4 linked regions of the Homo sapiens genome follow. The protein of the gene in region 3 purifies or fractionates together with the protein of the main gene of each other region. This does not show direct contact. Each region holds a gene or a part of one and is shown on either strand. Other genes may lie near its edges.

Region 1 (7,026 bases), on a different chromosome or scaffold from region 3:
AAATCAAAAGGGACCCAGCTCACAGAGGCCTAGTACAGAGCAAGTGACCACTGGCAGTAGGACCATCAAGGAGCCAAAAGATTGGCTCCCAGAACAGAAGTAGCAAGGAGCATTTTCTTTCTTTCTTTTTTTTTTTTTTTTTGAGACAGTCTCGCTCTGTCGCCCGGGCTGGAGTGGAGTGGCAAGATCTCAGCTCACTGCAGCCTCTGCCTCCCGGGCACAAGCAATTCTGCTGCCTCAGCCTCCCAAGTAACTGGGATTACAGGCACCCGCCACCACGCCCAGCTAATTTTTGTATTTTTAGTAGAGACAGGGTTTCACCATGTTGGCCAGGCTGGTCTCGAACTCCTGACCTCAGGTGATCCACCAGCCTCAGCCTCCCAAGGTGCTGGGATTACAGGCGTAAGCCACTGTGCCCGGCGCTCTGTAGCATTTTCACTTAATAAATGGCATACAGACCAGTAGACGAGGAAACCACTGAATGAGGTTCAAATAAAACCAGTTAGGTTAGCGCAAAGGAAGAAGGAAAAAGGTTTTCAAAATAAAAGATGCAGATTTTCAACTGAGTAGGCTAAAAAATGACTAAGAAAAGATCAGATCACATAAATGAACTTCAGACAGATTTGGAACAATACTTTTTCTGAAGGTATGGATACCTAAATTATGTTTTAATAATTTCTGAAACTCGCCAGGCGTGGTGGGTCATGCCTGTAATCCCAGCACTTTGGGAGGCCGAGACGGGTGGATCACAAGGTCAGGAGATGGAGATCATCCTGGCTAACACGGTGAAACCCCGTCTCTACTAAAAGTACAAAAAAAAATTAGCCGGGCGTGGTGGTGGGCGCCTGTAGTCCCAGCTACTTGGGAGGCTGAGGCAGGAGAATGGAGTGAACCCGGGAGGTGGAGCTTGCAGTGAGCCGAGATTGCGCCACTGCACTCCAGCCTGGGTGACAGAGCGAGACTCCGTCTCAAAAAAAATAATAATAATTTCTGAAACTCATAATTTTAAAGCAAAATTGTTTGGACTTCCTCCCCAACTTTGGCAACATGACTAAAGTCACTTTTACAACTCCCACTTTAACCAGCTCCACCTGCCTGCCTGTTTCCAGTCTCCCTTTACAAGTGATCTTCTGTCAGCTTCTAATCTGTGATAATCCCTCGCGCATCCATTTGAAAATTTTAAGTACTTCATTCTCAAGGGATCTAGTTTTGGCATCAGCAATGTCAAGCCAATATCATCCTGAATATCTCTTAAACTATAATCAGGATGCATCGTGAAACAGGATTTGTTTAAAATTGTAGTATGAGCCTTTCAGTCTGCACTGGTGGGCCCCTTTCCATTTCTCTGCCATGCTACTTGCCAGAGAATTTCTACTTTGTGTTGTGTTTGTGGAAGACAGACCAAATGCAGCACATTTAATCTTTCAGACGTTTTATTCCTTTAACGATCTAGCTGCTCTAGATGGTTTCAGAATACAGATGTTCAATTAGTCCAATTTTATAAATCAGAATCCTGAAAGCTAGAGAGGGAGTCTTGCTCACTTTCTATTACCACAGAATAAAATGATAAAAAGCTCCTTCTCGAGAAGCGCCCTGCATTGGCTACTGTATCTCAGTTGCTGGGCCATCTTGACATTAAGGTAAAGGAAAGCTTGGATTGATTTTGTAACAATATTCTGATAAATTAGAAACCTAACTGAATTTTCCAGGCATACCTGAGAAAGTGATTCTAAAATTTATATGAGAGAATAAAAAAGATCAAGGAGAAAAGAAATTAGATCAATGAGTCAGAATCCAGATAATAAGAATAGGTAACATTTACATTCTACTACATACAAAGCACTGTTTTTTTTTTATTATAAGACTGTATTATATTAAGGATAAAAAGAAATCTAAATATGCATATAGTTCGAAAGGCCTGCCTTAAATAGAGCAGATACCAAGGGGTAACAGGAACTGGATGCAGAAAAGAGGATAAGGGTGAAAAAAATGAAACAAGAGTCTAGTATACACTGATAACATGAAATACCCCAACAATATAGTTAATTTTTGTACCACAGGCCCTTAAAGGAAAAAAAAAACAAACAAAACAGCTAAAACTTACCATATGCTCATTCTCTACAGCATATATGCCATATTTCATGTCTCCTCGGCCTCCAGGTGTGGCTGTCAAAGGTGTGCTTCTCACCTCCCGATGGAGTTTAGCAAGGTCCTTCCGGTAGTTTCGAAGCTTAGACATCATGGGGTTTCGGAAAGACAGGGGTGCATAACGTAGCTCCTCCTCCATCTCTGCCAGCTGGGAAGGCAGAAAGTAGTGAGCAGATAGCCTGGTTCTTCCCTCACTCATTTGGAAATATGCCTAGTTTGGACTAATCAAACTACTTATTTATTTGGACTACACCAAGTAAATAACCATATGCTCCATGAGGCAGGGACCATGTCTGGCATGTTCCCCTCATTCTGAATGCCTTGCATAGTGCCCAGCAAGCACAGAGCAGGCATTCGAGTATATGAACTGAATGAATGAATGGAAAAACAGAAGTACTTTATAGCTTACTAAACACTTTTATATACATTCTCCATTTAATCCTCACAACAAATCAATAAGGTAGGAAATGCTCCATTTCATATATAAGACTTAAAGAAACCTCTGAAGATCGCACAAAAAGGAGTCCGGGCCAGGCACAGTGGCTCAAACCTGTAATCCTGGCACTTTGGGAAGCCGAGGCAGGAGGATCACTTGAGCACAGCCTGGGCAACATAGCAAGACCTCATCTCTATATATATATAAAAAATTAAACAGAAAAGGAGTCAGGATTCAAAATCTTCAAATTCTCTCAGCTCTCTTCAATATACCAAGTTTTTAGCCTGGTATGATTGAACATTGCCATCAAGAAGTGCTTTGAAGTCTACTGTATTAAAAATGATAGGGGTCTGGCATCAGGGTTCTTCCCTTCTCCTGCTCCTCTTTCTGAAAATCAATTAAGTTTGTCTCCATGTCAGAGAGAACAGGGGCCTACCCAGAGCAGTCTGCTTTAGGGGAATCAGACTTCCATTTTTCTGGGGTAAGTAAAATGTAACACCTGGACACATCCACAAGAGGCCCTAAATTATTTTCATCTGCCTGGAATGGGCAGCATAGGATTATTACTTTTGCTGAGTTTGGAGAAAACAAGTATCTGAGCATCAAACAAATCAGTAGCAGCTAGAAGATTTTAAAAATGCTACCAAGGTATTAACTGAAACAGGAGAATGGCTACAAACAGGTATCATGGATATGCCCAGCTGTACACAGGTATTAAGAAAAGCTCCCAGTACTCCCATTAGGAAGAAGATAGTTCCCACAGTCTAGTGGCCTGGTCTTTCTTAAAACAGATGCAAAACAGAGAAAAGGATGCAGATGTGCTTCCTTCTCAGAACTTCATTGGGATAAGTGGGAAATTGAAACACTGATCTTCAACAAGCAAGAAGGAAGTTCGCTGGCCAAAAGAGAATTTTTTCTCCATCTGCTCTCGGGTAGCAAATACAGGGCCAACTATTTCTGCGGAGTACTAGCAGCGACCAGAATTTTGGCCCCAATCTTAATGAGTTTGCTGAAGCTAGAGTATGATGAGATGGAGTCAAAGGACTCTTGCTTCTATAGGGCTAGAGCAAAAAAAAAAAAAAAAAAAAAGTTTTTTTTTTTTAAAGAAAAGCCACAGGTGAAGAGAAGCAGTTGTTAAACTGTTCAGTAAACGGAACCAACTTCTGACAAACTTTGGGTACCAACTGAGACTCATGCATGTCTTGCCTGAGGTACCAACTCCAGCTCCTATGTTGTCTCTTAAGACAGAAAGGGACATGGTTAGAATTACCTCTAAACTACATTTTCTGTGACAGTAGGTTTAACAAAGAACAGTAACCTTTTTTTTTTTTTTTTTTTTTTGAGGCAGGTCTCACTCTGTCACCCAGACTGGAGTGCAGTGGTGCAACTGTGGCTAACCACATGCTTGACCTCCCAGGCTGAAGTGATCTCCCACCTCAGCCTCCTGAGTAGCTGGGTCCAGAGGCATGCACCACCAAACCTCGGTAATTTTTTTTTGTTTGGTAGAGATGGGGGGTCTCCCTATGTCGCCCAGGCTGGTCTTGAACTTCTGGCCTCAAGTGATCCTCCCACCTTGGCATCTCAAAGTGTTGGGATTGCAAGCGTGAGCCACCGCACTGACCAGTAACCTATCTTAATGGCCAGCTCTTAAAAACAGATTTTAGGCCAGGCACGGTGGCTCATGCCTTGTAATCCCTGTACTTTGGGAGGCCGAGGCGGGCAGATCATGAGGTCAGGAGATCGAGACCATCCTGGCTAACACGGTGAAACCCCATCTCTACTGAAAATACAAAAAAACAGCCAGGTGTGGTGGCGCCCACCTGTATTCCCAGCTACTTGGGAGGCTGAGGCAGGAGAATGGTGTGAACCCGGGAGGTGGAGCTTGCAGTGAGCCGAGACTGTGCCACTGCACTCCAGCTTGGGCAACAGAGCGAGACTCTGTCTCAAAACAAACAACAACAACAACAACAAAAAAAAAAACAACAGATTTTAAAAGACTGCTTGGGTAAAAGTATGAGAATGCCCTTACTACTCACATCAGCAATATATTACCAAAGAGTCACATTTCAGGAGCATCTTCAGGCTTCACCCATTTGTTTGCCAAACCCCCTCAACAACCATCCCCATCAACTGGCTTCATTTAGTAAGAAATAGTCAAAATCAAGATCAATGGACAGGAACAGTTAATTTGTGATCAGCTCATAGCATTACTTCTGGAAAAGACCAACACCAGGTAGAAGAAACAAAATTTGTTCCTTGTTCTCACCGTTTCATTTGCTTCCTGTTGCTTTTCATCAAAATCCCTGATCAATTTCTTCTTTTCTTCTAGAAAAGATAGATAAGTTTCAAATGCTTATTACTGTTTCCACACATTTGTAAAGGCCATTCCCTCTGCTTCGAATAAGCTTCCTATGGCAGGGCCTGGTGGCTCATGCCTGTAATCCCAGCACTTTGGGAGGCCAAGGCAGGTGGATCACAAGGTCAGGAGTTCAAGACCACCCTGGCCAACCTGGTGAAACCCCATCTCTACTAACGATACAAAAATTAGCCGGGCGTGGTGGCAGGCACCTGTAATCTCAGCTACTTGGGAGGCAGAGGTAGAGAAATGCTTGAACCCAGGAGGTGGAAGTGGCAATGAGCCGAGATTGCGCCATTGCACTCCAGCCTGGGCAATAGAGCAAGACTCTGTCTCAAAAAAAAAAAAAAAAAAAGAATGTTTACCAATAGTGACTCTCTGAAACCCCTCACCACTCCCACAGTGAACCACTTCTATGTTAACTCGTACACTACTTTTCTGCAAAATAAAAATTCCACCTACTCGGCTTGCTGAGAGGCTGTCTGGTGTGGTGCTTGTTTTTCTCTGGGTGTGGCACCGGCAATGACTTGAACGATGAGAACGTTATTCATTCCCCTTTCAGCCTTTCCCATTCTGTCCCTTTGGTTGAGTGTATCTTTAATACCTAAAAATTACTAATCTCCCCTTTGAACAAAAATAGAACAGGCTTCAGCTTCAAAACAAACATCTAACTAAAACAGTATTGTCTTAATTGTATTTTCTGATAGTTTATACTACAGGTTTTCCATCTAAAATATGATAGCAAGTTTCATTTTTAAATAACATTGTTTTAAATAAATGTATTTTACATGAAATAAGTTGACATAAAGAAAATGTAAGTGACAAGGCTGGGCACGGTGACTCACGCCTGTAATCCCAGCAATTTGGGAGGCCGAGGCGGGCGGATCATGAGGTCAGGAGATCGAGACCATCCTGCCTAACACGGTGAAACCCCATCTCTACTAAAAAATACAAAAAATTAGCCTGGTGTGGTGGTGGGCGCCTGTATTCCCAGCTACTCAGGAGGCTGAGGCAGGAGAATGGTGTGAACCCAGGAGGCGGAGCTTGCAGTGAGCCAAGATTGTGCCACTGCACTCCAGCCTGGGCGACAGAGGGAGACTCCATTTCAAAATAAATAAATAAATAAATAAAATGTAAGTGACAGTAATAATGATACTTGCGGATGGCAAAAATTATGAAGGTGGTACCAGAATGCTGTCACCTGGTAAACATTTGTATGGGGGAAAGGCATACAAGCACCTTTTCTGGTTAGTCAGCGGGGTGAGGTTCTGGTGCCAGGTTCGGGCCTGCCTCAGCATGTAAACTTAGATAATTTCCTTCATTTCTTTGGGACCTCACATTCTCCTTCATTGACTACAAAATGAGGAAGTAGGTCATTCCCTTATATCTAACAAGCAAAAATTAGCTCCTTTTAAGAGGAGCTTGATTTTTTAAAAAAATTTATACATCCAAATGACTGTTCTCCCTGGAAATCTACACATAATCTACTTATCACCATAAAGTTACCATCATTTACAATGTTTGTTTGTTTGTTTCAAGACAGAGTCTCACTGGTCACCTAGGCTGGCAAAATACATGTAATATAAAATTTACCATTTTGACCATTTGTGAGGGTATAGCTTAGTGGCTAGGTACATTCACACCGTTGTGGAGCCATCACCACTAACTGTTCTCCAGAACTTGTTTATCCTCTCAAACTGAAATTCCGTACCCATCAAATACCTCCCCATTCTATGAATTTCACTACTCCAGGTACACCATTAAGTGGAATCATACAATATTTGTCCTTTGTGTTTAGCTTATTTCACTTAGCACAAAGTCAAGGTTCATCTATGCTGTTGCACGTATGGGGATATGGCCTTTTAAAGCTATGTATTTTTCAATGTGACTCCTAAACACAAGCCAGCAGCACTTCCACCAACTAAAGAGCAATTTTTTTTTTTTTCTTGAGACAGAGTCTTGCTCTGTCTCCCAGGCTGGAGTGCAGTGGCTCGGTCTCGGTTCACTGCAACCTCCACCTCCCAGGTTCAAGCGATTCTCTTGCCTCAGCCTCCCGAGCAGCTGGGGTTACAGGCACCCACCACCA
Region 2 (7,026 bases), on a different chromosome or scaffold from region 3:
TCCTCGTCGAAGTCGTAGTTCACGGCTGAGATGTTGGTGAGCGTCTCCTGCTTGGTCTCGCCCAGGAACGGGGATGCACCGCTCAGGCTGCGAGACAGGCGTGGGGGCTCAGTGGGGTCCTGGGCTCCCACCACGGCCGCGCCGCCTCTCCGGCTGCCCACGACAGGCGGAGCACAGAAGACAGGCTGACGGCAGGTGCCTGGGCCACTCACACTCCTGAGCCCTTAGAACCTTCCTGCAACGATCCCAGACACCACCCAAGAGGCATTCAAAATCCACCCCCCCACCCCGCCACTGACAGCAGCAGAAATGAACAGGCAGAAGTCTCCTTGGAGACTCGAAGTATCTGTGCAGACGCAGAGCCCGAAAGCCCCCAGTGCTCAGTAACGCCGAGGGGAGGGTAACTGCAGTGGGGAGCCCGAGCCAACACCTTAGCCAAAGGATCAAGGTCAACAGCCCGGCAGTGAGAGGCCCCAACAGCGTCTGCCTCCCAGCCTGACGCTGGGAGGGTGACACAGCATCATCCCTGGGGTTTTGAGCAGAGACACTGAAGCCCCGTCTGATCGTCTGATCGTGACAGCGCACGAGACTAAACGTGGACTCAGACGCCTTCTGCAAAACACCTGACCCGTGAGCACAAGTCAGGGTCAAGGTCATGAAAGCCAGACAGAGGAACAGCCTCAGACTGGAGGCGGCGAAGGAGCTGAATGGCTAAATGCCGTGTGGGGACCTCAGAGAGGACAGGAGTGGAAAACGGGGGTGTCTAACCACCTCTGGCACTTTAAATTTTTTAAATTTTTTAGAGACGGAGTCTCGCTCTGTCACCCAGGCTGGAGTGCAGTAGCGCGATCTCGGCTCACTGCAAACTCCATCTCCTGGGTTCATGCCATTCTCCTGCCTCAGCCTCCTGAGTAGCTGGGACTACAGGCACCCGCTGCCACACCCAGCTAATTTTTGTATTTTTAGTAGAGACATGGTTTCATCGTGTTAGCCAGGATGGTCTCAATGCCCTGACCTCGTGATCTGCCCTCCTCAGCCTCCCAAAGTGCTGAGATTACAGGCGTGAGCCATCGCACCCGGCCCATCTAGCACTTTTGTGATTAGCGTAGCACCAAGGCTAACGTCTTGGTGTTCATAACGTTCGTGTTCATGAAAAATGTAAACTGAAGGAGGAGGAAGCTGCAGGGGGCGTCTGTGCTGTTTCTGTTGCTCCTTTGTAAGTCTGAATTATCTGAACATTTAAAAAGAATACAAACGGTCTAGCCCATCTCCTGAAGCCTTTGGGTCCGCTCACGCACTACAGCGGGCTGGGCCCACGCCATTGTTTATTTCCTTGCTTACTGAATGAGCTATGCCCATTCAATATGGCTGGGCAACACAGTGAAACTCCACCTCTACAAAAACTTTTAAAAATTAGCCAGCTGGGCACGGTGGCTCACACCTGTCATCCCAGCATTCTGGGAGGCCAAGGCGGCCGGATCACTTGAGGTCTGGAGTTCAAGACCAGCCTGACCGAAATGGTGAAACATCGTCTCTACTAAAAATACAAATAATTAGCCAGGCATGGTGGCAGGCACCTGTAATCCCAGCTACTTGGGAGGCTGAGGCATGGGAATCACTTGAACCCGGGAGGCAGAGGTTGCAGTAAGCCTGAGCTGAGACGGGGCCTTGGCACTTCATCCAGCCTGGGCAACAAGAGCGAAACTCTGTCTCAAAAAAAAAAAAAAAAAAAAAAAAATTAGCCAGCTGGGTGCAGCGGCCCACGCCTGTAATCCCAGCACTTTGGGAAGCCGAGGCAGGCAGATCACCTGAGGTCAGGAGTTCAAAACCAGCCTTGATCAACATGGTGAAACCCCGTCTCTTCTAAAAATACAAAAATTAGCTGGGCATGGTGGTGGGCGCCTGTAATCCCAGCTACTCAGGAGACTGAGGCAGGAGAATCGCTTGAACCTGGGAGGTGGGGGTTGCAGTGAGCAGCTGAGATCGCACCACTGCACTCCAACCTGGACAACAAGAGCAAAACTCCATCAAAAAAAAAAAAAAGTCCGAGCATGGGAGCATGGTTGTGTGCACATGTAGTCCCAGGTACTCAGGAGGCTGAGGTGGGAGGATTGCTTAAGTCTGGGAGGTGGAGGCTGCAGTGAGCTAGGACAGCACTCCAGCCTGGGCAAGAGAGTAAGACCCCGTCTCAACAAATAAAAATAATAAACAACAGCAGGCCCACGTGTGGCCCAGGGACAGGAGCCAAAACCCAGCGTGGGGTCGGACCCCTTCCTTGCACTTCGAGAGGAGGCTGGGCTCCCTAGCAGCCAGAGGGACAGGAGCACACACGACCCCCAACCCGGAGCCTGCTCAGCCGCTCTGTGAGTGTCCTGCCTTCAGAACTCTCCAGAAGCCTCTGTGACAGCAGCCACAGAGAATCACTCATCCGTTCACCCGGTATCCCCTGAGTACCCGCGATGGGTCACAGCCAGGCTGGGGACCCCTGGCGTCCACATGAGACACACGGAGCCGGGGACCCATGCCAGCTGTGTTGCACAGCCGAGGGGGCCCCCGCCAGGTACTCACAGGATATAGGTGATGACACCGATGCTCCTGGGGACAGACAAGAGGCAAGGGTCAGCGCAGCGTGGGGCCGCCCACCCTCCCAGGACCGTGGCGTCCAGCGCCCCTGTTCTAGGGCAACGGTCCCCCCATACCCCAACAGCAGCAAGGCCCCGCTTCATCCCCAGCTGCAGCACTGGCCTGCGCTCCAGGAATGCAGGGAGGCCCGGTGGGAGCAGGTGGTACACTCACCACATGTCCGCCTCCAGGCCCAGCGGCTCATAGTTCACAATCTCTGGGGCTGCAGAACAGGGAGATGTGGGTCAGGCACTGGGGACATGCTGGCCAAGGAAGAGGCTCAAGACACAGGCATGGGGTCAAGGTTCTCACATGTCGCAGCCCTTGGGGGCATGAATGCGGCAGAGCTGGCCCTCAGGGCCTGACGGGTAGGACAGCGGGGCTGCACCAAATGGAGGCCCAGACCTCCCGCAAAGCCGGGCCCAAGAGGGGTGGCTTCAGGGCCGAGGACGCGGCACCCAGCACCGGGCATGACCCACCCCACGCACAGCAGGCAGCCCCAGACCACCCTCCCCAGGCCGGGGCTGCCCACTGGGCAGGGCCTCACCCACAAACTCCGGGGTGCCGAAGATGTTCTTGAACTCGTTCCCCGCCTCGATCTTGTGCGCGATGCCGAAGTCGATGAGCTTGATTCGTGGGTTGGGCACGTTCTTGTCCAGCAGCATGATGTTTTCCGGCTGGGGTGGGAGGAGGCTCAGCAGGGAAAGCACGGGCCTCCCCCACCCTCACCCCCACGCTCCCCAAACCTCACCCTCACGCTCCCCGCAACCTCACCCCCACGCTCCCCCAACCTCACCCCCACGCTCCCCAAACCTCACCCCCACGCTCCCCACACCTCACCCCCACGCGCAGGAGGTGCCTTCCAGGCTCTTCCCCGCCCCATCCCCACCCCCACACTGGCCAGGCCGGCCCCACAGGGCCCTACAGGGCTCACCTTCAGGTCAAAGTGTGCGATGCGCTTAGAGTGCAGGTAGTGAACGCCGTCCAGGATCTGCTTGAGGAACTGGGTGGCCTCGTCCTCCGTCAGCGACTCCTTCTCCGCCAGGAAGTCAAAGAGCTCCCCGCCAGAGACCAGCTCCAGGATGAGGACCACGTCCGTCTTGTTCTCGAAGATGTCGTGCAGGGTGATGATGTTGGGGTGCCGGATCTCCCGCAGGATGTTCACCTCCCGCTCGATCTCCTCCCGGCTCACCCCACGCCGGCTGGATGACAGGCGGCGCTTCTTGATGAACTTGGCTGCGTACTCCTTGCCCGTGCCCTTCTGCCGGCACTTCCGCACGATCGCAAACTGGCCGCTGGAGGAGGGGGAGGGAGTGAGTGGGGGTGGAGGAGGCGGAGGGAGTAAGTGGGGGTGGCTGGCTCCCCGTCACCTCCACTTGCTCCTCTTGGGCGCGGCCCTGCACCAGGCACTTGAAGGACATGAGCTGGCCACTGCGGGGGTGCAGACTCTGCGCCTTCTCAGAGAGCAATTCCTTAGCGCCCCACACCATCAGACGCGGCGTTCCCACCCCTCCCAGGGCTATGCCCAGCAGGTGTGTGGAGGGGAGTGCAGAGCCACACGTTAACACCATGGCACCGGCGTATTTTTGAAAAGTGAAAGAATGAACAGTTCAATGCATATCAAGAGGGAACTGAGGGGGCCAGGCGCGGTGGCTCACGCCTGTAATCCCAGCACTTTGGGAGTTCGAGGAGGGCAGATAACTTGAGCTGAGGAGTTCAAGAGCAGCCTGGCCAACATGGTGAAACCCTGTCTCTACCAAAAATACAAAAAATTAGCTGGGTGTGGTGGCGGGTGCCTGTAATCCCAGCTACTTGGGAGGCTGAGGCAGGAGAATCGCTTGAACCTGGGAGGCAGAGGTTGCAGTGAACTGAGATTGTGCCACTGTACTCCAGCCTGGGCAACGTAGCAAGATCCTGCCTCAAAAAAATAAAAAGTGCAAGGCAAGTGCCAGATCCGCTTTTTTTGTTTTTGTTTTGTTTTGTCTTGAGACAGGGTCTGGCCCTGTTGCTCAGGCTGGAATGCAGTGGTTCAGTCATGGCTCACTGCAGCCTTGACCTCCTGGGCTCGGGCAATCCTCCTGCCTCAGCCTCTCAAGCAGCTGGGACTACAGGCACATACCACCACACCCAATTAATTTTTTTTTCTTTTTGTAAGGATGAGGTCTCACTATGTTGCCCACGCTGGTCTCGAACTCCTGGGCTCAAGTGATCCCTCCCAAGTAGGTGGGACTACAGGAACACACTACCACACCTGATTTATTTATTTTTTGTAGAGACAGGGTCTTGCCGTATTGCCCAGGCTGCTTTGGAACTCCTGGCCTCAAGAGATCCTCCCACTCCCCCACCCCAAGTGTTGGCAGTACAGGTGGAGCCGCTACATCTGGCCAGTATCCGCATTTTAAAGAAACCAAGGCTGAGAAAAGGAAAGCAACTAGCCCAAGGTCATGCAGTCAGTCAGTGGCGGGAGGATTCAAACCTTCAAACCAGGTGCTGCAGGCTCCAGAGCCCAGGTGCTCTAACAGGAAGCAGACAGCTGCTGCTGGGTACCGGGTTCCTGCGTGCCTACCTCCCGGCTCCACGCTGTCTCCTGCTAACAGACCCAGCTGTCCCAGGGCAGCCTTTGCCGCTCACTCTCAGTCTGTGGGACTCAGTGGCCCAGGAAAGGGGTGGAAGGGGACACGACTGGACCTGGGCAAGCAGAAAACCACGCCTTCCAGCCCAAAGAGACCGGTCCAGTCCACAGGGCTCTGAACGCCTGCTGGGAAGAGAGGATCTCTCTCTCCCTCTGCTGGGCTTGGATCCAGGCTCGCGGCAGGGGCCACCACGTAGAAGGCTACCTAAGAAGCCTGCCTAAGAACAGACCAGGCCAGGAGAGGGGAGCCACCAGGCACTGCGGGTGGCACATAAGCCCCGTCATTCACTCTGCCAGGGCGCCTCCTCCATGCTGGAGTGGACTTCGGCCCCGGGGACACAGGGCACCATATGCACCAGCACCCAGTCACACCTGCGGCCGCTGCACACCTGGACAACCTGGTTCTGTAAACCACGCCTTTCCCTGTTTTGCTATTGCCAACCAGATTTCAGGTTCTGCCACTGAGTCCTCCTACAGCAACAGCAGACCACAGCCGCCCACCTCCAGACAGCCCCCGGTCTCACTGGCCACAGACTTGCTCCTTAGAGGCAAGGCCACTGGCAGGCTCTCAGTTCCTCTACGGAATGTGAAACGTGCCTCATCTCCCCAGCCGGGAAAGAAACTCCCCAAGAGCTGAGCCCACCCTCTTCGCTTCTCTGTAACTTCCCCAGCCCCCAGCGCAGGTGGGGGCACAGCAAGCCCTCCTCAGTGATGGTCTCAGGTGTCACTCCCAACCCACTTCCTAAGTGCCTGCCACAACCCAGACACGACCCAAGCGTGGCCTACACACCGACAATTTCTACTGATAGAGTTCATGATGTTTAAAAATGCGGGCTGGGAAGCCGGGCACAGTGGCTCACGCCTGTAATCCCAGCACTTTGGGAGGCAAAAGCGTGCAGATCACGATGTCAGGAGTTCAAGACTAGCCTGACCAACATAGTGAAAGCCACGTCTCTACTAAAAATACAAAAACATTAGCCGGGCGTGCTGGCAGGCATCTATAATCCCAGCTACTCGGGAGGCTGAGGCAAGGAGAATCGCTTGAACCTGGGAGACGGAGGTTGCAGTGAGCTGAGATTGCGGCATTGCACTCCAGCCCGGGCGACACTGCAAGACTCCGTCTCAAAAAAAAAGTGTGGGCTGGGGCCAGGCACAGTGGCTCACACCTGTAATCCCAGCACTTTGGGAGGCAGAGGCGGGCAGATCATTTGAGGTCAGGAGTTCAAGACCAGCCTGGCCAACATGGCAAAACCCCGTCTCTACTAAAAATACAAAAATTAGCTGAGCACGTTGGTGGGCGCCTGTAATTCCAGCTACTTGGAAGGCTGAAGCAGGAGAATCACTTGAACCCGGGAGGCGAAGATTGCAGTGAGCCAAGATGGCACCACTGCACTCCAGTCTCGGCAACAGAGCCAGACACCGTCTCAAACAAACAAACAAAAATTGCTACATTCTGGGCCTTCATCTTGCACTTCATGTATCTCTGAGAATGTTCCAGACCACTACCTGAAGCAGTGCCGTCAGAACAGCAGACACTGGCCACCCAGAGCTGTCAAACCCGTGAGGTGTGGCCAGTCCCGAGAAAAACTGCGACATGAAATACACACCAGACCTCCAAGGCTTCACGGCAAAAACAGAAGGCTAAATACTTTTTTTAAAATTATGAATTTCTGTTTGTTTGAGAGATGGGGGTCAACTTATGTTGCCCAGGCTAGTCTTGAAGTCCTGGGCTCAAGCGATCCTCCCGCCTTGGCCTCCCAAAGCGCTAGAAT
Region 3 (7,026 bases):
CATTTGAGTGTAGAAGGCAGGTAAACAGTTAATTATAGTTCAGTGTGTTAAGGGAAATATAGGATGGTTACTATGGAAGCCCATAGCAAGGGCACTTGGGAAATTCAGAGAAGGGCTCTTAGAGAAATTGCCATGCAATTTAAGTCCTGAATGATGAGGAGAGGAGTTACTCAAAAGCTATGTGAAGTGAAAGGGCCAGAGTATGGTGAGAGATGACACTAGAGAGATGAGGATGGATCTGTTTTGGCAGAATTTGTTAAGGAGTTTGGATTTTATTATTAAAAACCATAGGAAGCTAATATATCCAATATGGGTCCTCTTGATACACCAGTGCTATCTGTAAAAATATCATGAGAGTCTTGTATGGTCATGTGGCTTGCACCTGGAAAACCCTGGAGTCTCCTTACCTGTAAACAAGTACACAGTGTTTTTTCATCCTACCTACTGAAATACAGGTCCGTCCCTGCTAACTGGAGTCTTAACCACTCATTCATTTATTCAGCAGATGTTCACAGATTACCTGCTGTGTACCATTCTCTTCCTTACCACGGAGCAGCTTTCCTACGTTCTGTAGTCTCCCCCAAAGAAAAATATTTTTTGTAGCTTTGACATTGAACTAAAATTGAGAACAAAGAAGACATTGCTGATGGATTGATAACCTGTGTTGTCTCAGAAAGTGACAGAATTTATAAAGTTTAAAAAAGGATGCATAAAAATGCCTCAATAAAGTTATACATAAATACAGAATGTTTAATGTATTTGAATTGCCTTCAGTTCGAGTGTTGAGTTTTACTATGCATAAAGCACTATGGCAGGCTTTATGGAAGGTAATGAGGATAAAACCATTTCTATTATTAAAGAGTTTCCAGTGTAGTTGGCAAGGTGAGGCACATATGCAATCAACTGTCGTACAAGATAGCGTATAATAGATTAGTGCTCAGTTAGAGATATAAAGGCAAAGGAAGGATCACTTTCACCTAGGAGGTTTAGGGAAGGCTTTGGGAAGAAGATACTATTCAAAGGTAGGTCTGAGTTGTGATAACCAAACCTAAGGGGTAGAGACCTGGGCCTTCTGCGTGGAAAGTGCCAGGGTAGTTTGAGAATCAACTGGTCTTTAAGCTTTGTGTCAGGAGTTATAACCTCAAATGTCTACTGGGGTTCATCCTAGAGGCATGCGTACTTACATTGTATGAACACTGTCTGTGGAATCCATTTTTAAATATTTATACAGGAACTCCTGTTGTACAGCATTCTCATTGCATTCCATGTGAAAATGACCCCCTTAGGTTGTGTAGCATGGCCTTGCATTGGTAGACTCTCAATTCGCAACTCCGCGTTCGCATGTTTTAAGGGCTAGTACTAGGGAATTGGTTATGGCTCATAGAATAGGAGCCTGAGACTTCTGTTTGTTTCCCTAAAACCAATGGCTTTATCAAAAGTATTTTAACTTAATTCTTAAATTATTGAATGAAATAAGCTTTGGAATTTTATGTATTTTCATGCTGAAGTTTAGCTTATTTTGAATCTATAATATAATCTGAATATCACTTTGAAAGCTATGATTTTTTCAGCTTAAAATTGATAAGGACCTTCAAACAAAAACAAGTTCTGGTCATTATAGCCTGGTCTAAACTAATTTCTTGGTCTGGTTTTCTGATTCTCTAGTATTTAAATATTAAATATTATAGTAAATATTATAGTAAAGTTTATTTCATAATGCCAAAATGACAAGTTTGACTTCTTAGATCTGTTCTATTATATATTACAAATTGTTTTTTGTTTTTTTGTTTTTTTGTTTTTTGTTTTTTGTTTTTGAGATGGGCTGGAGTGCAGTGGCATGTTCACAACTCACTCACTCAGTGCAGCCTCGACCTCCCTGGGCACAAGCAATCCTCCCACCTCAGCCTTCTTAGTAGCTAGGACTACAGGCATCTGCACCACACCTGCTAATTTTTTTGTATTTTTTATAGAGACGAGGTCTCGCCATGTTGCCCAGGCTGGTCTCGATCTCCTGGCATCAAGTGATCCACCCACCTTGGCTTCCTAAAGTGCTAGGATTACAGGCATGAGCTATTGTGCCTGGCCAACAAACTGTATTTTAAAATAAACCATTTATTTCTTCAGGGGGGCATTTTTTTTTCAGGGGCAACCCGTGAAAAACCCATTTTCACCAAAGGTGAAATGTCTATGGTTTAACAGTTTTAGATCCACAAACACTATACTCAGTAGCCATCCTCTGGAAAAATTCACTGAATTTTTAGCACTGTGTGGCTAAACAGAGTCTTTCTCTATTGTATAAGTCCATTACAGTTCTAAGCTGGTCCATGAAATAGTCATTATTTCCTTATTTTCCATCAGTCCTAATGCTGCAAGGACTCTTTTACAAGAACATAATAATTTAGAAAAGATGGCTGGCAAGGGTGTTCATTTTTTTGAGTTTAGAAAATTTAATAAGTAGGCCATAAGAATATTCTTATACCAGATTCTAGACCCGTTGCCACCTTAAGCAAATGTTCCAGACTTGATGTGATGTTAATGAGTTTCATGTTTTTAAATAAGGTAAGTCTGGCATGTTGATCTTTGAAGAAATACCAGCACAAATATTAACTTAGTTTACTACTTAAATGCTGATCAGCTTGCAGTAGTAATACATTTACATGAGGTTATATAGTGTTGTTTAAACTAGATTTCCAGGCTTACTGAAAAAAATTTAAAAGAAACCAAAAAAGTAGCTAGTATTTACATCTAAGACTGCTGAATCATGTCTGATAGACTCTAAAGTGTTAGAAAAGTGTCCCACATTTGAAAGACACGTCAAAATTTTGTGGTCCTTTATTTTATAAGTTATTTGATGTTAGGGTAATGATAGGATAATTATCTTTATTGGCAATTGTTTTTATCAAAAGGGTAGCATCCTAATTCCTAATAGGTTATTATGTGCAAGTATACTAACACGAATTAACAATTGTTAAAGAAAAGCACAGTAAGTACTCCCAATTTTTTGTCTTCAAAATAATATACACACTTTTCTTGATCGATAAGGTGCTTATTCCCATATAAAGAGGTCTTAACAGACACAATTGTTTATACCTAATTCAACCTATTTTCATCTCACTTATTCCTATACTGCATATATTCTGTCTGAATAAAATTGCATTTTCTTTATAAGTGACAGTTACACAGTCTTTTCTCCTTATACCCAGGTGATACATGTTGTTCCAAGATACCCACTGGATGCCTGACACCACAGATAATTCTAAAACCTAATATACTGTGTATTTTCCTACACATACATGCCTATGATAAAGTTTAATTTATAAATTAGGCACAGTAAGAGATTAACAATAGTAACTAATAATAAAATAGAACATTTGTAACAATATACTGTAAAAAAAAGTTATGTGAATGTGGTCTTTTTTTTTCTCTCTCTCTCTCTCCCTCTCCCAAAATACTGTAATAGTTACGGACCATGCTTGACTGCCACTAACTAAAACCATGGAAAGAGAAACTGTGGATAAGAGGGCATTACTGTATTGTAAATTATAAATATTAAAGTTTTGAGGTCATAACATCATTTACATTTGTTTTATATTTTGTTTTCAATAAAGAATAAGATAAACAGTAAAGAATTTATGCATGTATTAATAAGCATTCAATTGGAGCTCATACACATGAATTAATTGGTACTGTTGGCTTAGTATTTTAATTCTCAGTTTATGCGGTGGTTGGTTTTTTTTCTTTGTGTACCTTTGAAAAGATACATTGCTTTGGTATTATTAACAAAAAAGTAATAGGTTTTTAAAATATAAAAAGTTATATGCTTATGTTTTTTGATTTATAGAATATTATTTAAAGACAAAGATCGGAATTGGGATGACATAGAAAGCAAATTAAGAGCCGAAAGTGAAGTCCCTATTGTGAAAACCTCAAGCATGGTATAGTAATTTTTCTTGAAGATTAAAACATTTTAATAGAGTTTTATTTTAAGGAAAAGACCCTTATTTTTGAGCTGTTCGTTGATTTGCTTTTTCAAAAGAAGATATAAATGCAAAATTTTGGGAAATTTTATTTCTTCTACTGACTCACAGGTTTAAAATGTTGATTGTTTCAAAGTTGCAGAGGGTATGAAGGAGGAGCCTTTTGTGTTTCTTACTAGTATAGATTGTTCTTGTAATAATTAAACATTAGAAACATGAAATTTTTAAAGAGAACCAAATCTAACATGAAAATATTAAGTTGACATAAGTCGTTTCCGTTTACTTAATATAATGCTTATCTTCTTTTTAAAAGAATTTGTACAGATTTTCATTGCTCAGAATATAATTATAATATTGAGGTTGCAGTTTATATGTTTTTACAAAGATAATTTGAAGGCATTTTTACATAGTTATTGCAAGGTTGATTAATAAGAATTTTAAAAATCTTTGCGGCCGGGTACTGTGGCTCACGCCTATAATCCCAGCACTTTGTGAGGCCAAGGAGGGCGGATCACTTGAGGTCAGGAGTTGAAGACCAGCCTGGCCAATATGGCGAAACTCTGTCTTTACTAAAAATACAAAAATTAGCCAGGCATTGTGGCGGGCGCCTATCATCCCAACTCCTTTGGGGGCTGAGGCAAGAGAATTACTTGAACCTGGGAGGAGGAGGTTACAGTGAGCCAAGATTGCGCCATTGCACTCCAGTCTGGGCGACAGAGTGAGACTCGGTCTCAAAAAAAAAAAATCTTTGCTTAAATAGTAGTAAATGTTAAACTTTTCATCTGCTACAATCATCTCACTGAAAAAGTTATTGTATTTCATTTTAGTTTAAATATTTTAATTTGAATCTTGTTTGCTAGATATCATAATTATTTCATATCATGTTGCTATTAATGTAGTAAGTACCATGTAGATAATATTAAGTGTTCCAAATAAAGTGAGAGTGAAATTCATTGCTTGTAAAGTGATAACATTTAGCTAAAAGTAGGCTAATTTTTGTTATTGCTTTCCCTGCAGGAGATTTCTTCTATCTTACAGGAACTGAAAAGAGTAGAAAAGCAGCTGCAAGGTAAATTTACTACTGAATTAAGTATAAAGAGCTAATAATTTAGAATAAGTGCCTTCTGAGTGGTATTTCTTAAAATATTGTTAGGATGTTATTTGATTAAATGTAATGACATACATAAAATACAGAGTTCAAACATTCACATTATTCATAAAAAGGAATTTTTTTAAACCCAGTATAAAAATTTAAAATGTAATAAAGATATATGTTGGGCATATTTTAGTTCATAGGTTTGACAGTAGGCTAGATGTCATAAACTAATTGAAATTTTTTATGTATTACATATAAATAATATGTGAAAAATATATAATAAAGTTGTGTTAATTAGCATTATTTGTGTGATTTGACAGTTCTTAAATTATGTTGGTGGTGTAACCTGAAACAAACTTACATTCTAATAGAAATAATAGTTGTTTGGTTGACAAGAAATGAGTACATATTGGCCATAGAGACCAGAAGAGAAAGGAGAGAAGAAAGTGAAAGAGGCTGCCCTCTAAACTTGTCAGAGCTGGGCTGTGCATTAATGCCTATGTATGTCTTGACCCAGAAGTCCCCAGTGGTACAACAGGCAGGTTCCATAGTCAACTGCTAATTCTACTGAGTCTTTATCTATCGAATAATCATAGGTACTTATGTGGATCCTATCAAAATGATTTTTCATCTTTATTTAGCCCCAACACACCTAAGGGTTATGGTACACCCCATGAGTAAAAGTGGCTTGCTAACACAGTGCTTGTTAGCTGGTAGACTGGGGGTATACTTTTAAAAGTCCCTTCTACATGATTCTTACATCTATGTTACTTCCTTCTCCCAACTCCCTACTCTGCCCAATGCCAAATTGAAAATCACCGCCTGAGAACTTTCCATGTCAACCCAAAGATCTTTTGGACTGAAAGCTGACCTTTAACTGACCCCTTCCATATAGGCAGCAAGTCTGTTTGGCTTTGCAAGCTGCCCTGTGATATTAGTCTGTAGGCTCTGAGGGAACCCCTGTATCTCAGTGGTGTATACAGCTGATAACCCTAGCACTCTGGCCAGGCTAAATGACCGTATTCTATGGTAGCATTCAAAGTATGCTGATGTTCTTCTGGCCTCTCCAGCCTTGAGGTTACTCTGAACCCTGACTTAGCAGCTAATACCTCAGTTATCTGAGTGATGTGGGTTTAGATGTTTATTAAAAATCATATTCAGTATTTTCTCGGTCCTCTCACAATAATGAAGACAAATTTCAACAAGATTTTTCTTGAATTCCACATCTTCAAATACCAGACTTACAAGTCTCTGAAATGCCCGTAAGTGCCACATCAAAGGACCCAGAGAAAGTATTCAGGGCTGGGTGATTTACAGTACAGCTACAGAATAACTAAGAATGGAGTTTTAAATATAATATTGGAAGATTAGCCACATTTAAGATCACATACGCACTGATAGTTTAAATATTATCCAAATCATGAACAGTGTTTATATGTGAATGTAACTGCATCTAAAATTATTTCCTTTTCCCGCCCTTTAGCAATCAATGCTATGATTGATCCTGATGGAACTTTGGAGGCTCTGAACAACATGGGATTTCCCAGTGCTATGTTGCCATCTCCACCGAAACAGAAGTCCAGCCCTGTGAATAACCACCACAGCCCGGGTCAGACACCAACACTTGGCCAACCAGAAGCTAGGGCTCTTCATCCTGCTGCTGTTTCAGCCGCAGCTGAATTTGAGAATGCTGAATCTGAGGCTGATTTCAGTATACATTTCAATAGATTCAACCCCGATGGGGAAGAGGAAGATGTTACAGTACAAGAATGACTTTCTCTTGATTGTTGAAAAATCATTACCTGTGGAATGGCTAGGAATATTGGAAGCAGCATAGTGTTGATGTACGCAAAACAAGACAGCTTGGTCAGCTACAATCTTGGAATCCCTGTCTTCTTAATTTTATTTATTTATTTTTGACGTATAATGTAGTATATCAATCCTTTCAAACTA
Region 4 (7,122 bases), on a different chromosome or scaffold from region 3:
CACATCTGACAACGTACTTGACAGAAGCAACACACACTGAAGCACCATCTTAAAATGGCTGTGGTAGAATACCATAGAAGACCAAAATCCCTTAAATTACCAGGGCAAGAACTATAAGGAACTCAAAAGCCTCCAGTTAGCTTCCTTTCTTTCGGCGTTCTTTTTGCTGTGATGACCAAGGTCTGAAATACAATTTCTCTACCCAGCCCCATCGCCTTTTCTGCCAGGTACAGCTGAACTAAGTTGGGCTAACAAGGCAAATGATGGGCTCCAAACTGTGCTGCATCTGTCTTTATGGTGGCCCTCTTTATTACACCAAGATCCCCAGACACAACCTGCTGGCCCAGAACACTGCCTGCTGCCAACTAGAGCATAACCTGCTCATTCTCTCCACCACCAAGTGCTTTATGGGCCAGGACACAGCCTCCTGGGCAGTGGTCCTTGACCTTGGAATCTGACCTTGACACTGACATCACTGGAACATTAGGAAAAACCCATGAGCCTTGGACTCCCTAGAGACCAGCTAAATCAGAATTGCTGCAGTGGTGCTGGGGCATTTTTCCAATGACAAAGTCTCTTTCTACTCAAGAAATAAACTCAATTCTGATTGAGTCAGGGTTTCATGAATCAAGCTTCATGAATACTTATCCCAAATTATTTCACTTATATGTTGTAAGATGTTCCCATTTTTGTGAGTTTTATATTATTAACTAAGTTAATGGGAAATGAAGTGTATCTGTTAAAACCTAATCAATATTAACTTGTTATAAATATTCCGCAATCTAAACTGCTTTTACATCATTGAAAAGTTATAAAAATTAGCAAATCTGATAGCACCAATTCAATAAAGCAATTTAAAATTACCTAGTAGCACATTCTGTGAAACTTTGACAATATGATGTTACTTGGCTATGATATAATCATGTACTTCAATCATTTGAAAATGGTTGTTTAACTCAAAGGCAGGATTTTTAATGAAAAACAAATGGCCAGAAATACAAAGAACTAGGAATTAGGAGACAACTCTGTTTCTAGGCTCTTCACCAACAAGTTCTTAGGCCCCCATCTCTCTACTTAACTATCATTTAGCAAATACACCATATGAATTGCATGGGTGCCGAGTCTGCTATAAGAATGAATATGTTCTCCACAACAATTTACATATTTATTCATTTCTCTCTCCCTCTTTTTCCTTCTTTTTGGGAGTTCAAAACTTCTTGACTCTATAATTAGTAAATGTTATAAAACTGAACTTGTACATTATATTTGAACTGTTAAAAAGCAAAATTTGAGGCTGGGTGCAGTGGCTCACACCTGTAATCCCAGCACTCTGGGAGGCCGAGGCGGGTGGATCACCTGAGGTCAGAGGTTCGAGACCAGCCTGGCCAACGTGGTAAAACCCCATCTCCACTAAAAATACAAAAATTAGCTGGGTGTGGTGGAGTGTGTCTGTAGTCCCAGGTACTCAGGAGGCTGGGACAGGAGAACTGCTTGAACCTGGGAGGCGGAGGTTGCAGTGAGCCAAGCTCGCACCACTGTACTCCAGCCTGGGCGACAGAGGGAGACTCCATCTCAAAAACAAAAACAAACAAAATTTGAACAAATTTAAAGATGTAAATGGCTTTTATTAGCAATTTATGAATCTGGCAGCATCTCAACTAAAAATTTAGAAACGGTGTTCTGATTAGCTGAGCAGAGGTGGGCTGAAAACGGTTGAAGAAGCAAAAAGAGAATAAAAGACAGATTGGTCATTTCAAAGTTAAACTTTCCTCACAGAGACCAAATGGAGGAGAGACTTCTTTATCATGCTGGCTCAGGTAAATCAGGCCTCCTTGACTCCTTGCTGTGTATCTTCTGGATTTTTTGACAACTGGCCCATTTCTAAGTTGTTTGATTATGTGACACCTAGCACCAGCAACTCCATTCTGATTTGGCCTGGTCTGTTGGGCCTAGTGCAGGGGTTTAATCTAAAACAATGGCTTCCTATACATTTCATTTAACAATACTAATAAAATACCGCTTTTATTTTATTTGTTTACATTGGAGTCCTGCTGTTAAGCAAAAAAAAAAAAAAAAAAAACAGGGAGAAATCATGGTAGAATCGAAAGACCGAAAGCTACTAAAAATTGATAGCATTTAATAGTCCTGAATAAGTTGTTTCTAATTATAATTCAGCTACTAATTTCAAGAAGAAATGGAAATTTAGAAAGTTGAAATTATGAAATATGATTGCTGGGAAGTATAATGGGACAAAAATTAAAAAGCTGAATCTATCTTCACTGCCACTACTGCACTTCTACTCTGGACAACTGCAACCGATCCCTTCCAAAGTGGTTGTATCCAGGCCCACCCTACACCCACTTCCTTCTGAAAAACCAATCCACTTTCCTTAGGATACAGTCCAAACTCCTAAACAAGGCTTACCAAGGCCCTTCAAGATCTGACTCTCGGCGTCTTCTCATCTCTATGCCCCACTCCCCAGTCTCATTACCAGTCATTTTCCTACCACTCTGCTTCAGCTACCCTAGCCTTCTTTCTGGCAGTTCCTGTAAACAGCAAAGCATATTCTAGCATCAGAGGCTTTGCATTTCTAATTCTCTCTGCTGGCAAAATTCTCTCCCTAGATCTTGGCATGGCTGGCTCTTTGTCATTCAGATCCCTGCTCAAATGTCACTTCCTCAGAGACCTTTCCTATCTGTCTTAGTCCGTTTCCTGTTGCTTATAAAATAATTCCTAAAACTCGGTAATTTATAAAGAAAAGTAATTTATTGTCTAGTTTTGGAGGCTGGGAAGTCTAAGACTGACGGACCACGAGACAGCACCGCAAAGTATCACGTGGCCAGGGGGCTGAGCAGGCTCACGAGTTGTCAAGTCTCTCCTTAAAAAGCCACCAGTTCTACCTCCGTGATAACCCATTAATCCATGAATAGATCAATCCACTCGTGAAGACAGAACCCTCACGGTCCAACCACCTCTTAAAGACTCTACCTCTCAGTACTGCCACATTGGGGATTAAATTTCAACATGAGTTTTGAAGGGGACAGATATTCACACCATAGCACTACCTATCTAATACAGCCCATCACGTCCTGGTCAAAATCGATTCCACCATTCTGCTTGATTTTCCTCATATAACCCATCCCTATCTGATAATTTTGTGTTTGTTTCCCCGAAATCACTATCTTGTTCACTGTTGTCTCCCCAGGGACTAGAACAGTGGCCAGTAAACACTTGCTAATGAATAAAGTGCTTAACAAACGTGTCTTGATCAGTCTATCTCGCGTTTTCCCCACGACCCCTCTCCATTCATTCACAGGAACCCGCCAACGTTGCTATCCTTTCAGGAAGGTCCTTGGATCGTCATCGCTATCCCAAAGAGAGTCCGTTCTCCCACTTCAGGCGAGGCATTGCCAGCCTGGAAGCTAACGGGGTCTCAAGGACCGACAGCCGCGCCAAGACCGGGCACTTGCGTCTGACAAGCGCTGAACAGGGGCGGAGAAACAAGGCACCCCTCTACTCGCTTCCTGGAGCCTGCCGCCCTCCCAACCTTAAGCCCTGAACCAGGCTCTCATTTGGCCGCACTCGTGCCTCCCCTGCTGCCAGCACGGCGGCCGGTCCCGGTTACCTGCCTGGGATCTGGCTCAGGCGAACTCTCTTCACACCGCCATTTGAGGGAACACAAATGCCCGCTCTGGGCCACCGTAGTTCACAGAAAGTACAAGCTGGCACCTCCTCCCGCATGCGCAGAGACCGCCTTCGGCGAATAGTGTCTCTTAGCAACGGCTTTGAGTCCCTCCGCCAGGGGCGGAGCCTCGGAAGCCACCACGGGGAAGCTGTAAGGGGAAGTGAGTGAGACCAATCGGAGACGAATCTCTGCCCCGTTCGGCACGCCTCCCTTAACTGTCGCGAATGCAAAGGCAACTTTACGGCAGGCAGAGGGTGGGGGCTGCCGGGGGTAAGGAGGAGAGAAGGAAGCAACCAACCAACCAAGTCGTCCCTACTCCCTCCACCCCCACCCATCCCGGACCTGGTTTACGGCTCCAGGCTCAGGCTCCACTGCGGGCGCTGATTGGTTGTTGAAGGCTTGGTCCCATCCCAGTGACCCCAAAGTGCTGAAGGGAGGGGGCGGGGGTGGCCCAGTGCAAAGTGCATCCCGAAAGCCCCCTGTCCGGAGACCCCACGGCTGGCACTTCGGGCCCCGTATGACCTGGGACCTCGCCGTCCCGAGACCTCCTGGGTCCCTCCGTAGCTGGAAGCCTCCGGCCCGGAGCGCGGCAGCCCCCTGCTCCGAGCCCTGGACCGGGACTGCCCCCCCACCCGAGCCAGGACTTCCTCCCTGCCTCCCTGCACCTCTGCCCCAAGGCTGCCCGGCGGCCGGGATCGCCACCTCCTGCCTTCTCGGCTGTTCGGATGTTCGCCGGGCTGGGGCCGTGAGGCACCGAGGAGGATCAGGAACACCAGGGTCCGGCCCTGCCTGGGGTATTTCTTCAATGGAGAAGTTGGTGAGTGTAGAGGAGGCTGAAAGGAGGAAGAGAAGCAGCAGCTGAGGAGACAGGTAAAGTCCTTTACTTCCCCCGAGGGGAAGAGTGCTGGCTGGGAGGGTAGGAGGGAGGAAAATCTCTGCTTTTTCTTGCCTGCCCTTGCCACTCTCCAGCCCCTTTCCTGAGCTCCCCCCTCCCCACCTCTGAGACACTACACCACTCACTGGTTTCTGTTTTTCTAGGTTTGAGCTGGCTGAAGAAGACGCGAAAGCAGGAAGAGGTCTGCCCACCTATCAGAGAAGCAGAAGGCACAGTGCCTCTGACCAGCATCGTCTGTAAAGGTAATGAGCCAGCCCTCCCCTCCCCCGTTGTTTATTCCTGGCCCCTACCTCATTAAGCAGTGGTTTATTTTCAGGGTGGTTGCCTGGGAATGCAACCTTTCCTACCCCCCCCACCCCCACCCCCAGTTTCCCAGGAAAAACAAAAACATTACCCGTGCCTGATACTTAACATTTTATAACTTCTCTACCCAGGACAGTATTTTCCCACTTTCTTTCTGTACAGTGTGTTTCTGTGTTTTTCATTATCTTTTGGTACACTGTGCCATTTACTCTGCTCTGAGGCTTTGAGACCTTTTTGTAGCTACCCTCCCTTCCTTACTCTCATAGGAATTCCTCAATTCCTTGTTAATTGCTTGTTAATTCTGAATGACTTTCCTTTTTAATTAAACCACAATTTACTGTTTTCCCCCTTACTCTTTCCTATCACCTTTCTTCTACCTGCATCAGAAAAATCTTTTGAGTTATCTAACTGACAACGATTTGGTAGAGAAAGGTAAATTATTGGCCTGAGATTTATGAGTTTCAGAAAATAGTTTGATTTTATTTCCTACTAGAAAGCCAACCTGTGTACCTTAAGAGTGTGAATGGTATGAAGACAACATTATTACCCTGAAGCACTTAGGCATAATTAACTCTTTGGGCTTTCTGTGTGTTTGTGTGTGACAAATGTGGATGGGCTTTGAAACTTATAAAGATACAATGTTTCTTACACCTCAGATTTTCTAGGAGAACTTTTAAAAATTTGCACAATATCTTATTAATCGTTTGACTCAGGAATTTAAAAACAAAGGAACCTTTTGGTGTGTTTACATATCTGGGTCTTAATTTTAGCACTCTATAAAAAAGATTTCTCATTTTAAAACTTTTACGTAGAGTTTGCTGGATTGAAATTTAAGCATCTAATTCATGTGATCACATTTCTGCTGCCATATTTTGTTGCTGCTTCTGAAAATGCTCTGAAAGTAAACTTAGGACATTAGTGTAATTCCTAAAGGGGGGATATAAGCATGGAAATTATACAAGGTTTAATTCCAAAATTAGCCAAATGGATGACTTTTTTAACATCCAGTAGCAAAAGTATAAAGTGACTTGTTAATCTGAGTTATTTTAATATCCCAAATTGTTTAGGGAATTTTTGTTACAAGGAAGTGCTTAAAATAGCAGAAGTTAATATTTTTGATTTCCTATGTTCCACTGGACTTTCTGCCCTCCACAAAAAGAAATTAGTATCTTTACTGATTCTGTTAATTCTTAAGACATAGCTAAAGAGATAAAGACATAGCTTTTAAGGGGATCTGAGGTATGCATATTCTTGAGACATGGAACTGCATGCCAAAAGAAGAGATTCTAGGGAATAGGATTTAGAATCAGTATCTACCAATGACTGTTCCCTGTTGAAAACTTAGGGCAGCTTTTGTATGTATATGTAGGGAATCAGGAGTACTAGACTACATCATTTCAGTAAAAGCTACCCGGAAATCTTTAAAGGCTAATTTTTATTATGTAAGTATGGAAGTTGTCAGGGAGATGGCCTAATGATTACTTCAGAACTTTTAAAAAATGCTAAAATATTTGAAGTATGTTCTAAAGATCAAAATGAAGTACTGTGTTTTGTATTCAAGCCTCTCAGTTAAATATTTTTTCAGCTTTACATGTAACTCTAGGACGCTTTCATTTCTAAAGAGTAGTTTCACCTGAGATGGTAAAGGGAAGGAGTCTGTGGCTAGTCCAGCACATAAGGTAAGAGAGGATAAGTCTTTACTCTGGCTCTCAGCCAGTTCATTCTCATTGCTTAAATCGTATTTCATGGATCATCTCATTTTTTAATAGTTTTTCTAAGATTAGGGAATATGTGTAAATTGTCAACATCTGTCATGTTTCTAATATCAGAATGACTGAGAGTATTTGGTCTAGATTATACCAGGCATTTAGAATATTTAATTTGGGTATTTATTTACCAACATGGCTAGTTAGGTAGCTTACATTTTTTAACCTGGCAGTTAGCTTTGTATTAATTCTATTGCCAATCATGTGGCTTAAAAAAAATCCAATTTATTTCGTCACCAAATATAGATTTATAATCACGTAGGGAGAATAATTGATTTTAATTGAAGATATGCAATGATGCATCTTTAGTATACTGTGGCCAGTACTTACATTCTTTACACATAAAGTGATGTCATTTACAATTAGTTAATACTATGACACATACAGTATCTCTTTAATTTGTTCACGTTTAACTTTGGTGACATAGAGATACACACCATCCCTAAAAAGTCTAAAGCCAGATATGATTTATA

The links.
Region 1: the proteins of CEP170 (region 3) and VTI1B purify together in Homo sapiens (affinity purification with mass spectrometry; 2 studies listed by BioGRID and IntAct, with this or other methods). This does not show direct contact.
Region 2: the proteins of CEP170 (region 3) and DAPK3 purify together in Homo sapiens (affinity purification with mass spectrometry; 3 studies listed by BioGRID and IntAct, with this or other methods). This does not show direct contact.
Region 4: the proteins of CEP170 (region 3) and ASB7 purify together in Homo sapiens (affinity purification with mass spectrometry; 2 studies listed by BioGRID and IntAct, with this or other methods). This does not show direct contact.

Annotation. Positions count from the first base shown.
Region 1 is NC_000014.9:67,657,627-67,664,652, forward strand, and holds part of VTI1B (vesicle transport through interaction with t-SNAREs homolog 1B), read right to left. Parts: intron 4,910-7,026; coding exon 4,851-4,909; intron 2,297-4,850; coding exon 2,105-2,296; intron 1-2,104. UniProt on the Homo sapiens protein: V-SNARE that mediates vesicle transport pathways through interactions with t-SNAREs on the target membrane. These interactions are proposed to mediate aspects of the specificity of vesicle trafficking and to promote fusion of the lipid bilayers.
Region 2 is NC_000019.10:3,961,075-3,968,100, forward strand, and holds part of DAPK3 (death-associated protein kinase 3), read right to left. Parts: intron 3,918-7,026; coding exon 3,557-3,917; intron 3,300-3,556; coding exon 3,170-3,299; intron 2,846-3,169; coding exon 2,797-2,845; intron 2,596-2,796; coding exon 2,569-2,595; intron 439-2,568; exon of another isoform or gene 340-438; intron 88-339; coding exon 1-87. UniProt on the Homo sapiens protein: Serine/threonine kinase which is involved in the regulation of apoptosis, autophagy, transcription, translation and actin cytoskeleton reorganization. Involved in the regulation of smooth muscle contraction.
Region 3 is NC_000001.11:243,126,269-243,133,294, reverse strand, and holds part of CEP170 (centrosomal protein of 170 kDa), read left to right. Parts: intron 1-3,841; coding exon 3,842-3,935; intron 3,936-4,994; coding exon 4,995-5,046; intron 5,047-6,556; coding exon 6,557-6,846; 3' UTR 6,847-7,026.
Region 4 is NC_000015.10:100,598,492-100,605,613, forward strand, and holds the start of ASB7 (ankyrin repeat and SOCS box protein 7), read left to right. Parts: upstream 1-4,097; 5' UTR 4,098-4,555; intron 4,556-4,723; 5' UTR 4,724-4,822; intron 4,823-7,122. UniProt on the Homo sapiens protein: Probable substrate-recognition component of a SCF-like ECS (Elongin-Cullin-SOCS-box protein) E3 ubiquitin-protein ligase complex which mediates the ubiquitination and subsequent proteasomal degradation of target proteins.